2 separate regions of the Homo sapiens genome follow, and region 1 is linked to region 2. Evidence: fine-mapped expression QTL. Tissue or cell type: whole blood. Region 2 holds a variant in brackets; the other region holds the start of a gene. All regions are shown on one strand. Distances are between the middles of the regions.

The links. PIP is the estimated chance that this variant, and not a neighbour inherited with it, causes the effect.
Region 1: it holds the start of DPM1, and the variant in region 2 is fine-mapped to the expression of DPM1 in whole blood (Lepik 2017, PIP 0.95).

Annotation. Positions count from the first base shown.
Region 1 is chr20:50,954,318-50,962,421 of GRCh38, reverse strand. DPM1 (dolichyl-phosphate mannosyltransferase subunit 1, catalytic) reads left to right here and starts at 3,890. Exons shown (of 9, transcript NM_003859.3): 1 at 3,890-4,059; 2 at 7,137-7,236. The coding sequence starts at 3,899. MOCS3 (molybdenum cofactor synthesis 3) reads right to left here and starts at 3,604. Exons shown (of 1, transcript NM_014484.5): 1 at 1-3,604. The coding sequence starts at 3,579. The coding sequence ends at 2,197. RefSeq lists enhancers at 2,821-3,431, 3,644-4,133.
Region 2 is chr20:51,121,559-51,129,662 of GRCh38, reverse strand. The region is part of intron 1 of LOC105372661 (a long non-coding RNA gene); the gene reads right to left. LOC105372662 (a long non-coding RNA gene) reads left to right here and starts at 4,787. Exons shown (of 3, transcript XR_001754668.2): 1 at 4,787-4,870; 2 at 6,884-7,037. The variant G/C (reference allele first, on the strand shown) is at 4,500.

The DNA of each region.
Region 1 (8,104 bases), 170 kb after region 2:
TAGATATCAAAACACAAATTCCCAGCCTCTCTTGCAGCTAAGATGTAGGCATGTAATTAGACTCTGCCTACCAGGCACCCTCATAAGGCTTGACTCAGAAAAGAATAATGTAGTGACTCTGTTTCTCGACACATGGACTGTGGCTGAAGTGTTGGGCTTTCTGGGAGAGTTGGGGGGGCACGTCAAGTGAAACTGGTGAGACTGTAGTGGCGTTTCCTCCGGTACTTGATAGGGCAGCACAACATAGACACTGTTCTCCTAAGGCCAGTTTTGTGCATGATTTCGGGCATCATTCCTAGAAGTACAGCCTTGAATCTGTCCCCAAAATTCTCAAAAGCACCTCCTATCACTTTAGTAAACCTTTTAACACTTAGCTAGTCAGCTTCTCTTGCCTGTCCCCTGTGACAACCAGGTTTATAGGAACTACAACTGTCTATAACTTTAGGACTTCAGTCTTTAGAATATGAAATTGTTCCTGTGTGTCGCTATTTGTTTCCTGCTATGTATCAGAATCAGTTGTCCCTGGAAGAAGGAGATGAAAAACACAGGCCAGCCATCTTTGTTCTCCACTCCAGGTCACAGTCATTTACCTCCATAACTCGTTGGCAGGAACAGTCATAAGAGACCTGCTTCATCTTTATAACAGAAGGGTATACCATACTTTAAGTATACCTGTTCAAAGAATTAGTTACAATGTTTCACAGTTAAAAAGTGATGACTAATTTTGAATTTGTTAAATACCACCCTCTTATAATAAAACAAGATTCTATATCACAAATTGCAAACTGGTAAGTAAATCTGGTCTACAAAGGGTTTTTGCTGGCTTATGATACATTTAAGCTTTAAAAAAAATGGTTAACAGAAATACAAAGATTTTATAGTTGTATCTGTGATTTCTGCCATTCTTAAAAAAACAACAGCAGCAATTGATGATTATAAGCCTGCATGCAGCAAGCAGGAGGTCACAGGCCCCCTTCTGACAAGCCATTAGTTCATCTGGCCACTGATAGGCACTCACAAATCAAATTTTTACTTATAATGTTGTTGTATATATTGGAAGTTGGTGAGACTACCTACTATTTTATGAAAATGTTAAGTAAACAAACATAAAAACATTTTACATTAGTATAAAATGCTGGAATAAAAAAACATTAAATCAAAAGAGAAAAGGCAAATTAAAGGGGGAGAGGCAAAGGGTTGGGACTTTGACTTGAAAATTCCAAAGCAAGTCAAACCATAGTATGCAATTTAAACGATGTGATATGTGTGCAACATAAGGTGGACCCTGAAGTTAACTTTAAGAAAACAGTAGCAATTTATAAGAGACACTGACAGACTACAAAGGTGGTTTCCTTTATTTTGGTAAACTTTAAAGATCTCGGGAGGGTGTGGTGGCTCACGCCTGTAATCCCAGCACTCTGGGAAGTCGAGGCAGGCGGATCACGAGGTCAGGAGTTCGAGACCAGCCTGACAAACATGGTGAAACCCCCTCTGTACTAAAAATACAAAAATTAGCCAGGCGTGGTGGCGTGCGCCTGTAATCCCAGCTACTCAGGAGGCTGAGGCAGGAGAATCGCTTGAACCTGGGAGGCGGAGGTTGCAGTGAGCTGAGATCGCACCACTACACTCCAGCCTGGGCAACAGAGAGAGATTCCATCTCAAAAAAAAAAAAAAAATCTCATTTTGATACTAATTCAAAAGGCCAAATAGAATGACCCTCTTTCTGAATAATTAAAACAATTTACATTTTAAACATGTATTTCTGTAGGATGTATTCTATCATCTGAAATATTAATAAGATCCAAGAATTTCTTAACTGAACAGTAAACAGATCCGAAGTATATAATCTGTGAAAATGATTTAGAAAGCATTTTGACTGGGGGAGGTGGAAAATAAGGACATGTAAATGATCTGCAGTTTAAAATGCAAAATCCTGTCACGTTACATCTCACATGTCCAAGACATCCTCCGTGTGCTGAAAAAAAAAATGATGGTTCTCAGAAACGGTATAATCCATTAATAAGTCATTCATCCAATACATAACAATTTTTAAAACTCCTTATAAAAAGGAGTCCACGTATTCACAGATACTGTAGAATCCCCAGCTCCTATGTATATTACCGAAAAATGCAAACAAGTGTATCTTTGAGGTATTATGGCAATCCACATCTTTCTCATCAGACTATACCAGTCACCTCAGTACTGTGGAAATGTTCCATCGATTTTGGCAGCCCAGGCCATGAGGCCCCCCACAACATCCCGAACTGTTAAAGGGTCTAACTCTTGAGCTGCTGATAAGGACTGGAGGATCTTCACGGCTTTCTGTGAGTCATTTCCCAGTTTGCAAATCACATAAATGGGGACAGCAGCCCCTTCTTGTGTGCCCTGCTTCTCTTCCCAGATTGCTTCTTTTAAGAGTTTCAGGCTCTCCGCATCCCTGCGTTCCAAATGTTTCAGAGGGATGTGTAGGGCATGAGGCAAACGACAAATGTCCACCTCCACCTGAGGCCTGACGTCCAGCAACAGGTGGAATGCCCCAGAATCCAGCAGTCGCTTATAGTCGGTGACAGAAACACGCTCCTCTGGGCTCAGTAGTTGCAGGGAGCGGCATTTATCAGTGGCTGAGGAGCCACAGAAGGCTTCATAGTCCAGCAGATCAGTCACAGTGGGCCGTTCCCCGCAAGCTGCACAGTCGAGCCTGCGGCTCCGCAGCCGAATAGAGCGGAAATGCCCTCTCAGGGCATCAAAGAGCAACAAGCTGCCACTGTAAGAGGGGCCCAGACCCGCAGCGATTTTCAGCACTTCCAAGGCCTGCAGGCAGCCCAGGACCCCGGTAACGACACCGAGCACCCCGCCGTCCGCGCAGTTGGTCACTGTCTCCGCTGGGGGTGGTTGGGGGAATATGCAGCGATAGCAAGGGCCACCGTCATAATGGTAGACTGTGATTTGGCCCTCGAAGCGCAAGGCACTGGCAGACACGAGGGGCCGACCCGCCAGCACACATGCGTCATTAACCAGGTAGCGAGTGGGCACGTTGTCCGAGCAGTCAGCCACCACATCATATCGGCGGACCAGGTCTAGGGCAGTGGCTGGCGTAAGGGCCTGAGTGTACGGCACGCATTCCACTGCCGAATTGAGGCGGCGCAGCGAGGCGGCGGCCGAAAAGGCCTTGGCCTGGCCAGCCAGTGCCTCGCCATGCAGCACTTGGCGGGCCAGGTTGCTCATCTCTACCACGTCATAGTCCACAAGGCCAAGGCGGCCCACGCCGGCCGCTGCCAAGTACTGCGCTAGTGGACAGCCGAGCCCACCGCAGCCCACGATTAGCACGCACGCGGTCCCCAGGCGCAGCTGTCCGTGCACGCCCAGCTCGGGCAGCACTAGCTGCCGGCTATAGCGCAGAATCTCATCTCGGGACAGAGCGGCCTTCGGCGGCAGCGGCGACACCGGAACCAGCCGTTCTGGCTGCGGTTCCTGCTCAGCCAAAAGAGCCGACGCCAGCTTCTGCTTCAGCGAATTCAATTCCTCCTCACGTTGGGCAACTTCAGCTTGTAAGGCGAGTACCTCCTCCCGGGAAGCCATGGCGACCTCTTCCGGAAGTTGTCGTGAAAGGCATTTCCGCTTCCGTCTTCTGTCTCCTAGCGACTGGGATAAACTAAAAAACTTTATGGAGCTTGGGAAAAGGTGATGAATAGATATTTACTTCCTGAAGAAACCTTCAGATTAAACTTCAAAGATGTATAAATCCAGAATATTTCTAATTGAACCACGCAATGGCCCTAGAAGAACTAGCGATCAATCACACAGGTCATCCCCCGCTTCCGAATTTGGTACGGTCCGACCCGTCCTTTTCCGCGCCACATTACGTAATTCCGCTTCCGGCATCTGGCTCAGTTCCGCCATGGCCTCCTTGGAAGTCAGTCGTAGTCCTCGCAGGTCTCGGCGGGAGCTGGAAGTGCGCAGTCCACGACAGAACAAATATTCGGTGCTTTTACCTACCTACAACGAGCGCGAGAACCTGCCGCTCATCGTGTGGCTGCTGGTGAAAAGCTTCTCCGAGAGGTAGCGCACCAGGTCTCCCTCCCCGAAGAATGAGATGAGCTGGCTTCCCCGGCCCGGGTGTCGGCAGCTGGCTGCGCGAAGCGGCCCTGTCCAGCCTTCTTTGCCTCACACAGGAAGGCCCGGGGAGAGGGCCACCCTGCGAGGGAAGCAGAGGCGGATGCTTGTTGGGTTTTCTTCGTGTCCTGGGTTCTCATTCCTGCCCTTGGGTTTTGTGAGACTCTCATTTATCTTTATTATGTAGTACTCCCGTCCCCCGCCTTTCCGTAGAAAGGTTGGCCACTCTTTTACTTGGAAGCGAGGCTGAAAGCGTGATCCCACTCCTCCCTCTAGGCGGTCAGGATCTGCGGCAAGAGCCGGGAGTCCAAGCGAGAGCTCTCACTCTCCGCTCCGGTGCCGAGTGCTTACATAAGCATGAGGTTTGGTGTGTGTGGGTTAGGGAGCTATTGCTGGGCACGATAACCTTTCTGGAAAGGAGAAAGCAGAAGAGCATCTTCGCTGATCACTGGTGGATGTTTGGTGTGATTGTTAGAACCGGGATGGGGGGTGGGTGGAGTTCGAATTTGGAAGTGTTAATGCAGTGTTTTTAAAAACTGCAAAAAATCCTGGAGTCAGTACGAAGTAACTTGTTTTACGATTGCACAAATGGGATCATGCTGTGAAATCTTTGAAGACTTTTTCTCATATTAACATGTACAAACATAGCAAATTACTTTGGAAGTTAGGTAACATTCCATATGGCTGTGTTATTTATTTAATCAGGTCATGGCAATGAACTGGATTATTTCCAGCGCCTTTTGGTTGTTTCTGTTTTTTGGCTTTTGCTTTGTCGATGAGAACAAGGACTTTGTTCACACCATATTTTCCAGCTAAATTTAGAAAAGTGCTTGACACATAGCGGTGCTCCTTTATTGCATCAGTGTTGGCAGCAGACGCGTTCATACTTTTACTTGTGTACTAGGGATAAATTCTTCGAGGTAGGATTGCTGGGTCGACAGAAATGTGCTTAAAATGGACAGTTACTGCCAAATTGCTCTAAAGAAAAAAAAGGTTGTACAAGTTTGGACTCTCCATTCTTCAGAGTGCCTGTTTCCCTATCAACCAGCCCGCCTGAGCATTAGACTTAACATTGTTGGAAGTACTCATTTGTGAAAACCATTGCTGTTTTGATTGTATTTCCTTGAATAACTGCCTTCATATGCCTTGCCCCTCAGAGTTTTAAAATTTTTATTTTTCCTGTTTAATCTTTTAATTTTGATTTCTATAAGCTCTAAATTAAAGAAAGTAACTATCATACAACCGATCTCGTTCAGGGCTTGTATTCTAATTTTGCAATTTTTTTTTTTGCTGTTTTAATTTTTTTATGTAGTACAATTTATGTTTCCTTTTAATGGTTTGTGAATCAATCTTTTAAGATCAAAATGAAGTTTGATAAAGGAAACAAAACTTTTCAGATGCAATCAAATTACTTGAAGTCAGCCCAGCTTGGTACCTTTGAGCTGCCTCACCCTCAGGTGGTGTAGCTGCTTTGAAGTGGTAGGGGACAGTAATTTGCTTTTAACGACCCCATTTTGTTTATGGAATTTCTCTTTCAGCACGTCTATTAAAATCACCTTACATATTTTGGCATGTAAAGGCACCAGTGCCCAGATTTAAGGCACAGTGGGAAGCCAAAGTCATTGTTCTACTCTTGGAGAATAGATAACACAGGGGTTTGCTTTCTTGTCTTCAAAGTTTGCTGGGGCTGACTTGTTAAAGCCTTTAACAGTGGAATATGTTTTCTGGTTGATTTTCTTGTATTTGTTTCTTTTTTCTTTTTCTTTTTTTTTTTTTTCTTTTGGAGACGGAGTCTTGCTCTGTTGCCCAGGCTGGAGTGCGGTGGCGCCATCTTGGCTCACTGCAGGCCCCGCCTCCCGGGTTCTTTTTAGTAGAGACGGGGTTTCACTGTGTTAGCCAGGATGGTCTCGATATCCTGACCTCGTGATCCGCCTGCCTCGGCCTCCCAAAGTGCTGGGATTACAGGTGTGAGCCACCGCGCCCAGCCTCTTGTATTTGTTTCTTAAAGCAGGACCAAGAGAAAACGGAATGTTATGTCGTAGGTATTATTTATCCACCAAGTATTGTGTTGGTTTGTTTTTAGACTAGAAACTACCACCTGAGATTAATGGGAAGTAACAGATGTTAATTCTGAAGCACAGTGGAATCTTTTGTAATGCTACTCTGCTTTTGTTTTTTTAATTTGATAATGTGAGGTAATAGGCACAACTATTTGAAATTGTGGTTTAAGATAATGTCACCATTCTAAAATCGGTTTTTTTAAAGATGAAATTAAATCAGATTTATACTTGATTATTCTATTTGGATCAGATTAACAAGAATAATCACTGAGTTACTCAGTTTGGTTTGAGTTACCATGTAAAGTACTTTTGAAATATTTTATGTAACTAAGATTTGCTATTAAGGTTCAGAATATTATTTCCAAATAGGTAATAAAATTTCATATGGCTGGGCACGGAGGCTCATGCCTGTAATCCCAGCATTTTGGGAGGCTGAGGCGGGCAGATCACGAGGTCAGGAGATTGAGACCAGGCTGGCTAACACGGTGAAACCCCGTCTCTACTAAAAATACAAAAAATTAGCCGGGCGTGGTGGTGGGCGCCTGTAGTCCCAGCTACTCCGGAGGCTGAGGCAGGAGAATTGCTTGAGGCCAGGAGGCAGAGGTAAGCCGAGACTGCGCCACTGCATTCCAGCCTGGCAACAGAGCAAGACTCCATCTCAAAACAAAAAAAATTCATATGATACATAGGTCATTACGTGATTTTCTTTTGAACTAAAAAGTTTGTTCTCTGTGTAGGAATTCTTTAATATCTCAGGACATTAGCATGTTTCAGCAACATACTGGGTTTGGAGGTAAAGTACTAAATGTTTGACATTTATTTCATTTGATAATTGAAGTTTTCCTCAACGATTAATATAGCAATACATCTCCATTTATACTTTTAAGGAATTAGTAATTTTTAAATTACTTTTAAATTTGAGAACACTGTCATCAGTCATTAATACAAATTTAATTTTTTTAGTGGAATCAACTATGAAATTATAATCATAGATGATGGAAGCCCAGATGGAACAAGGGATGTTGCTGAACAGTTGGAGAAGATCTATGGGTCAGACAGAATTGTAAGTTATAAGAACATTTTTCTGTGATATGAATTGTGATTATGTAGGGGAAAGATGAGACATGAACAATGCTTAAATTCAATCTATTTGTTTAGAAACTGAAAAGATAAAGAGCAACTTACGCATTTGGGATTTAAATGCATTTTTGTTGTCCGTAAAATTTTACATATCTTTGGTATGTTGGGTCAGTGGTCATTTTACAGCAAAGAGTGAGCTTTTGGATGAACTCTGTTTATAACTAATTCTGCAGATAAATTTTCTTGAAGGGCAAAAATTAAAGCATGATACTGAATTGACAAGGAATATTATATAATTGGGTTATAATTGGTAGTGTGTGTGTGTCTTAATCTTTCTTGCTCCCTTTCGGTAAGTATTCTCATGCTTTCATTAGAGAATACTGCCTGAAATTAAGAGCGTGTAGGTAGAAAAAGTTACTGTTTTCTTGTGAAACATTAATGACTTCTTAGAGTACTTGGCATTTTTAGTCTATAGAATAGTCTTGTGAAAGTAGATTGACTGTATTAGTCCTAAACTTTAGATTCACCCACTGTACCTTGAAACTTGTTATTCTAATATAGAAGTTACTTAGGCAAATATAGAGTTTATTTTATAATGGCTTCATGAATTTTATTTTTGGTTACCGGTTTGTATTTACAAATGTTTATGTATACTCGAGCTCTTTTATAATTTATATTCACAAATTATTGCAGACCACAGTTTTTCAGTCTTGGCACTATTGACGTGTGGACAGATTAATTCTTTACTGTGGGGGTTGTCGTGTTTATTGTAGGATGTTCAGCACCGCATCTGGACTCTTCTCACTAGATGCCACTAGAAACCCCCCTCCCCACTTGGCAACTGCAAATGT
Region 2 (8,104 bases):
AAATTTATTCCAATATCAGACAGTTTCAGTCCATCTTAGGCATATTACATCAATTACTATGGTGTCCCTAAGAGCACAAAATACCCCAGGGGGGGTTCAAACCAGCATAGATTTCAGAGGCATCTGCTCAACGGGTCTCAGCTAAGTGGTTAACGGTCCCCACAGGGTGCTGCCCAGCCACCAGGGCCTAAAATGTGCTCAGACTCCAGACATGGAACAAGACTGTCTGGTTAATAGCACATGTGGCCCAGCCACCCCAGTGTGGCATTTACAGCTCTCTGGTTTCTGTCAATGCTGCCCCTGCTAAACTACATGGCTGTCTAGTCTGCACTAAGTGCAAAGCTGGCTCCTGTGCGGGGCACCTCACCCACGCCCACAGGAAAGGCTGCCTTGATTTGAACCTCTCCTTGGGGCCTGCAGGGCGGGGTGCCTGTGTGTAAACACACGTGTGGCTTTTTGTTCTCCTTCCTGCCGATTATTTTAAAGCTAGGAGTTAAGTAAGATTCAGCTTGGTGATCAATTCACTCATGATGCTGCCTAACCTGTTGCTGTTTTATAAACTCAGGAAATTCTTCTCATTGATGGGTCTCAGTGTTGAGGGTGTGACAGGCCAGCCCCCTCCCACAATGCTGTGCATGCCTGGAGGAGGGGATGTGGCGTGGCAACCTCAGCTGTGTCCCGATGACCAGCATCCCTCCCCCTTTCTCAGGGGAACTGCACCTCTATTCTTCTTGCCCAAGTCCATCCACGACCCGCTTCCTATGCCCTACCACCAGCCTATGGAACAGGCGGAGTTCCAGACCCCGGTTCAAGTTCCCCACTGCCAGGTGCCAGATGAGTTATCTTCTCAGAGCCTCAGTTTGCTCATCAGTAAAATGTGGACAATAAGAATACCTACCTCCTAATGTGGTTGTGAAGGTAAAACAAGAGTACCTCCATTAACATCATCTTGGAAATGACAGCATGTAGAGCTGATTTCGTTTTTATTTTACAAATACTGATTGTATGGCCAGTTGGATTCCATTGTAATCATGCTTCAAATATAAGCGAGGCATAGGAAAACTTACAGAGAAATTATAATTATTGGATCTGGCTGCCCCCAGGACTTTCTGTGGCTTCGGGTATGGGCCCTGATGCAAGATACATGATCACTAATATTTGCTGACTTGAATTGAGCTAAGGTGGTCAAAGCCAGTGTTTATGAACCGCTGAGTTCCTTTCAGCTTGCAATAGCTCAGTGGTGCATGACTCAGTGGCTGCAGCACGTCTTTTATTCACTCATTCAGGAAGCACTGATGAGCTCAGATGTCAAGTCTTGCGCTGGGGAAGGCCCAAGAAGAGCAAAAAAGGGCACTGTTGTTGAGCTGTTTATCATCCAGAGGAGAACAAACACCCACATATACTACTGTCCAAAGCCAGTGGCCAGAACATATATGATGATACACTCTGACCTGCACCCTCTGCAGCAGTCAGCCCAAGATGGTCAGGATTTGGCCGATGACTGCCAGCTTCCCAAATCAACCCTTGGGTTCCCTTTCACAGTCCTCTCATAGCACATGCTTCCATAAAGGTATCACTGCTAATGGTGAGATCGCGAGGCAAATCCAGAGGAGATGCTCTAACCACTGAGCTGTGCTGCCTGGCCTGGGAGGAATGAAGAAAGAGAAGAAGGAAAATGAAAGGAGAGAAGAAGAAACCTAAGTCCTAAACACAGAGTGACACATTCTCTCCCACAAAGGTTATGAACAAGCCACATCTTCCTTACACTAAAATTAACTCATTCTAGCCTGTCAAGCTTCAGTGTGTTTGAATCACCTAGGAGGCTCGTTAAACACTTGGATCCTGGGACCAACCCTTAGAGGTCCTGAAACCGACAGTCTGGGCTTGGGCCTGGGAATCTGCAATTTTACCCTAAGTTCTCAAAGTCCTTGAACCTCAAAGCATGGTCTTCAAACAGCATCTTGGCTATCACCTCCGATAGTCGCTGCACCTGCCAATGCAAACTCCCAGGCCTGCCCTTCAACCTATTAAATCGGAATGTGTACTTAAAGGAGATCTCTAGGTGTTTTATGTGCACATTAAAGTTTGAGAAGCCCTGCTTTTGGTGATTCTCATTTAAGAAGTCCAAATACCACTTGGAGCTTAATAAATAATACTAACAATGAACTAGGCAGTATTTGGAGTGCTTAACGCGTAATAATTCATTTATGAGTCAAAAGAATTCTATGAGGTAGAGTCGTTTATTATCCCATTTTACAGATGAGGAAAATAAGGCACAGAAAGCTGAAGTAACTTGCCAAAGTCTCAAAGCTGGCACGTATGAAGGATGAGGTTGAAACCCAAGCTGACCAGCACCTGCCGCTCCCACTTGCCTGCTGAATTCACCTGGAAATTGACAAGCCCTGCATCATCCTGGCTGCCTTCCTGGGCCCTGACTTCTCAAACAAGGCGATCAGCAGCTCTTCAAAATCAACAAGAGCTGCACTGCTCTATTGTCCTGTGGCCGAATAACACATGCAAATTACATTGATTCTCTGGGAAGAAAATGGCTGTGTGGGTCTGGGCAAAGTTATTACATTTTCAAACTCAACCAGTTTAGAAAAAATAATTGTGCATACACAAAGACATGCTAGGGGCTCAAATGAGCCCTGCAATTAAATCAATTCATTGCCTCAAATCTGCACTGGATATTAGGTTGGTGCAAAAGTAATGGCAGGAAGAAAAGCTAGGGAAGAAACTTAAGAAAATTGCAAGGAAGAGAAAATATATTTACTATTCATCAAATGGAAGTGGATCGTTAAAAAGATCTTCACCCTCTCTTCATGTTGAACAGGCTGACTAGGAGGAGAAAAGGGAAGGGTTGGTCCTGCTGTCTGAGCAGTGGCAGAGGCAGAGGAGGTGGAAGGAAGGCAGGTGAGGCAGGCACACTGAGTGTAACTTGTGTTGAAAAATATCCTTGTATAAGTGGACCCATGCAGTGACTTAATATATTCCATAAGGTTCTGGGGCAAAAATGATGGCAAAGCAGGTAAAGAGCCACTCATAGTGTCTTCCACCCAGAAGAACTTGTTTGGAGACTTTTGTGCCCTCTGTCCTCTGGACTGAAACTATTTTATAAAACCAAGCTATGTTCTCTGAACTTAAAATGTCAAAACATTAAGAAAACCTGTACAGCAGGACTGATTGCTTCAGTGTGCCTCGCCTCTGCCTGTAAGCGCCCTTCTCTCCAGGACGTTGCTTGTATTTGGTGGCTCTGTTCTCCCACCATTGCTGCAACTGAGTTATTGGGTAGTCATGTTCCCAAGTGAGATCAGGCAAGGCTGGAAAAGGCAAACTCAGCAGCGGAAGCTTCGGGGCTTTCTGATGGATTTTTAAGGATATGAGGACTTCAGAACCTTGGAAGGTTTTTGGTTTGGTTTTGTTTTTCCAGTTCCATGAAACAAGAAAGACAACGACAATCAACGGAGATGGCACGCATGCAGCCAGGAACAGAACGGACTGAGTCCCAAGGCTAGAAAAGGATCTCCCCTTGATCAAAAAGGATTCTGTGTTTGTACATTTCAGCAGAGAGCCAGCTCCACTTCCAAAAGACAGAGAGTGACAAAATGGGCCTCTGAGCAGCCCTGGGCCTACCCATCAAGGCTGAAATCCATTTGTCTTGGGTTTTGGCAAGGCACTCTGGCAAAAGCAGCGGCCAGGCAGCCAGAAACACAAACCAGAAGACCATGCTTTGAGACAGGCTTCAGAGGGGCCGACTGAGCTCTAGCGCAATGTTTAATAAAAGATAAAGAGCTCATTGCAGTACTATTTATAATAGCAACAAAAACTTGGATGATCAGCATAAGATTGGCTAAATACATTTGTCTATATCTCTACAGTGAAAATTAGATTTTCAAAGAATATCTAACAACTTAGAGAAATACTTATTCAGTTGACACTTGAACCATGCAGGAGTCAGAGACACTGATCCCCACGCAGTCAAAAATTTTCACAGAACTCTGGACTTCCCCAAAACATTAACTAATAGCCTAATACTGACTAACACCTTACTAATAGCCGAGTAATACATATTTTTGTATGTTGTGTGTGTTATATGCTATATTCTTACAATAAAGTAAGTTAGAGAAAAGAAACTGTTATTAAGAAAATCATGAGGAAGAGAAAATATATTTACTATTCATCAAAGGGAAGTGGATCACTATAAAGATCTTTATCCTCTTTTCATGTCGAACAGGCTGACAAGGAGGAGAAAAGGGAGAGGTTGGTCTTGCTGTCTTGGGGGTGGCAGAGGCAGAAGATGGGGAGGAGGTGGAAGGGAAAGCAGGCAAGGCAGGCACGCTGGGTGTCACTTGTACTGAAAAAACTCCTTCTATAAGTGGACCCGCGCACTTCAAACCCATGTTGTTCAAAGTTCAAATGTCATATAATGTTAAGTGAAAAAAAAAAAAAGCAGGACCCACAGCACAAAACTATTCTGTACAGAGATAGATAGATACATA[G/C]ATATAGATATAGATTGTTTTTTTTTTTTTGAGACGGAGTTTCACTCTTGTTGCCCAGGCTAGAGTGCAATGGCGCGATCTTGGCTCACCACAACCTCTGCCTCCCAGGTTCAAGCGATTCTCCTGCCTGAGCCTCCTGAGTAGCTGGGATTACAGCCATGTGCCACAACGCCCAGCCAATTTTGTATTTTTAGTAGAGATGGGGTTCCTCCATGTTGATCAGGCTGGTATCAAACTCCTGACCTCAGGTGATCTGCCTGCCTCTGCCTGTCAAAGTGCTGGAATTACAGGCATGAGCCACCATGCCTGGCCAGATACAGATATATTTTTAAGGAAAAATACTGGAAGAGTAATCAGCAAACGTTAAAAATGTGAGTAGATTTTCTTTCTTTCTCGTATCTATCTGCATTTTCTAATTTTCCATAATATACATACATTCTTCTTATAGACAGAATAAAAGGAATTTATAATTCTTATCATTATAAACCAAAAATACATTGCTGATATTGTTTCCTGATACAGTAAATATAATAACAGTTACCATTTATCGAGCACTTAGTATGTACTTTAGATAGATGATTCTATTTTACAGTTACAATAACCACAAGAAACAGGTACTATTATTATCTGTATTTGCTTATGGGAAAAGAAGCATTTACCATTCAAAAGTTAAATGTCTTGCCTGCAGCTCAGTTACCACTTAAGGGACAGAGCTGGGTTCCAAGGAGGATGTCTGTGGTGTTAATGTCCATGCTATTAACTCTGAAGTAGCCCCAGAAAGTGAGACCCAGGTAGGGTTGCCAGATAAACTGCAGAACACTCAGGTAAATTTGAATTTCAGGTACACAATAAGTAATTTTTTTTTTTTACTGTATCATGCAATGTTATTCATTGTGTAGCTACATTTCTAATTTAACTAGGCATCCTGTTGGTTAGTTGGTTGGTTTTTTAATTAGAGAAATGACTTATTTCACAAATTGCTATAGGAAGGGGTTGAAAGTAACATAGCAGACCAACAGTTTTAGGAGAAGTCAGGTTCAGGCCCCAAAGCTAGCTAGCTATTTATTTATTTATTTATTTATTTATTTATTTATTTATTTAAGACAGAGTTTCACTCTTGTTGTCCAGGCTGCAGTGCAATGGCATGATCTCGACTCACTGCAACTTCCACCTCCCAAGTTCAAGTGATTCTGCTACCTCAGCCTCCCAAGTAGCTGGGATTACAGACATGCACCACCATGCCCAGCTAATTTTGTATTTTTTGTAGAGATGAGGTTTCTCCATGTTGGCCAGGCTGGTCTCGAACTCCCAACTTCAGGTGATCCGCCTGCCTCAGCCTCCCAAAGTGCTGGGATTACAGACGTAAGCCACCATGCCTGGCCTCTTTCAATAAGATCTGGGAACAGTCAGCCCCCAGACAAGCACAGAGAAAATATCTATATGTCTTGGGTTCCCTTTTGTTACACCCTCCTATGAAGGAGAGGGAGCTTTCGCTAATACAAATTGGATGCCTGGAGCAGACAGCCCCATAAAAGTGAGGGATGCTTGTGATTTGAAGACTCCACCAAGCAATATTGCTGAGCACTTGAAAGCCACACTCCAGGCATGCCCACACTGGGTGGTAACAGATTTCCGAGTCTCCTCTATGAAGTGACTTGTCTGGCTTTGCTGTCAGTAGTCAGAGTAAGAAGTGCCTCACAGCCCCCATCCTCAAGTCCTAGCCCCAGTCCTGGGGCTCACTGTGACAACCACACAGTCTTTCACATCCAAACTTAGACCATTTGGCTGGTCTATTAGGATCATCTAGGGAGTTTTAAAAAATACTGATACCTGGGCCTTTCCCCAAAAATTCTGATTTATTTGGCTGGCCGGTGGTGGGAAGTGTGGGTATTTTACAGCAACTCCCCAAGTAATTCTAATGCCCAGGCAAGGGTTAAACATCACCGCACTGAATCAACCACAATAAACCAGGTGCTGGGATACCCATGACAGGGGAGAATGTCACATTCATCTGTCAAACTGAAATACGAAAGTAAACCTCACCGGGTTGCTAAAAGGATTAAATGAGCGGCTCAGTACATGCCCTGCACAGAAAATACTTGGCAAGTGTTATTTCTTTCCCAGAATCAAACACACTCACTGACATTTATTGAGCCTTTTTTTTTCACCCAGACTTATGTTATCTCATTTAGTCCTCAAAACAGTTCTATAAGGTAGAGATCATCATCGTCTCATTTGTAAGATGAGAAAACTGAGTCAAACAAAGGTGACCTCATTCCCAAGGTCATCAGCTAATAATAGTGGAGCCAGGACTTGAACCCAGGGCCTTTGACTCAGAACCCCACGCTCTCAGTCCCTTCCCTGTATTGTCTTCTTGCTGACAGAGCCCTGTAGGGCAGATGAAGCCACCTACACACCACCTCCCAGCCTTTGCCCTGACCGTTCCTTTGCCTTGAATGGCAATCTCTTCTCTGCCTCTGCAAATTATAACCTGCCGAGGAAACATCCCGCTCCTTCTGGGCTCTTGCAGACCTCACGGTGAGTGCTCAGTCATCCATTCATTTATTCTTTCTCTGACTAAGCAAACATCTATTGAGCACCTACTGTGTGCCAGACACTGCGCTAGACACTGGATATAAACACTAGAGAGTCTTTGTTGGGCCTGCCATTCCGGGATGGAGACCAAAAATAAACAAAACAAACAAATGTATAACTGCACATTGCAGAGATTGCTCTAAAGGGAACTGGGAGCTTTAGCCTGACCGTGAGCACAGAAAACCATGGGGTGGTTTTAAGCAGAGGGTTGGTGTGACCAAACTTGTTTTTCTGGCTGCTGTATGGAGGATGGATTGGCTCAGGGGTGAGGGTAGAGGCAGGGAGGCCAGAGAGGAGGCTAAGGGAAGAATCCAGGTGAGACGGGAAGAGGACTGGCTCAGTGTGGAGGTGGCCTGAGAAAGAGGATGGACATCTTCCAGAGAAGCAGCTTGCTGCCCATCAGATGGGGTGGTGGGGGGGTCATTGCCACTTGCTCTAGCCCTTATGACAGACATTCTGCAGCATTTTTTACTGTGGCTTGTTTCATGACTGTATACATTGCCTCTGGAGTAATGTTCTGAATATTTAACCATCGGTGTCATGAGGGAGAGGCCAGTATTGACTAAATCAGAACAAACTGTGACTCCAGCTTTGGGCAGCATCCCCTGCTGGGCTAGGCATTAACCCTTTAGTTGCTGGATATCAGTGAGGTCCAAGGGATCCCAGGTGAACAGCCTGGGTGGAGGCAGAGGACTCTGGGGGTTTAGGATGACACTATTTGTCAGCAATATTAAAACCAAACAGCACATGCCCCCTCAGGATGCCTCCCTACTCGATTTTAAACTTCTAGGAAGCAAGGCTAGACTTAAGAAAATCAATTAGCTAGAAATTTGTCCAACAGGTATCCCATCCCTTGCAAAGACCTGGACTTCCCTGGGAAGATGTCCAGGCTGACATTTCAATTTTGCATTTCTGCAAAGAGATGCAGAGTCCTCCAGAATCAACCCCTGAGCCTATGAGGGCTACATGTTCTGTGAGCCCAGGACTCAGGAAGAGAACGTGTTATCTGC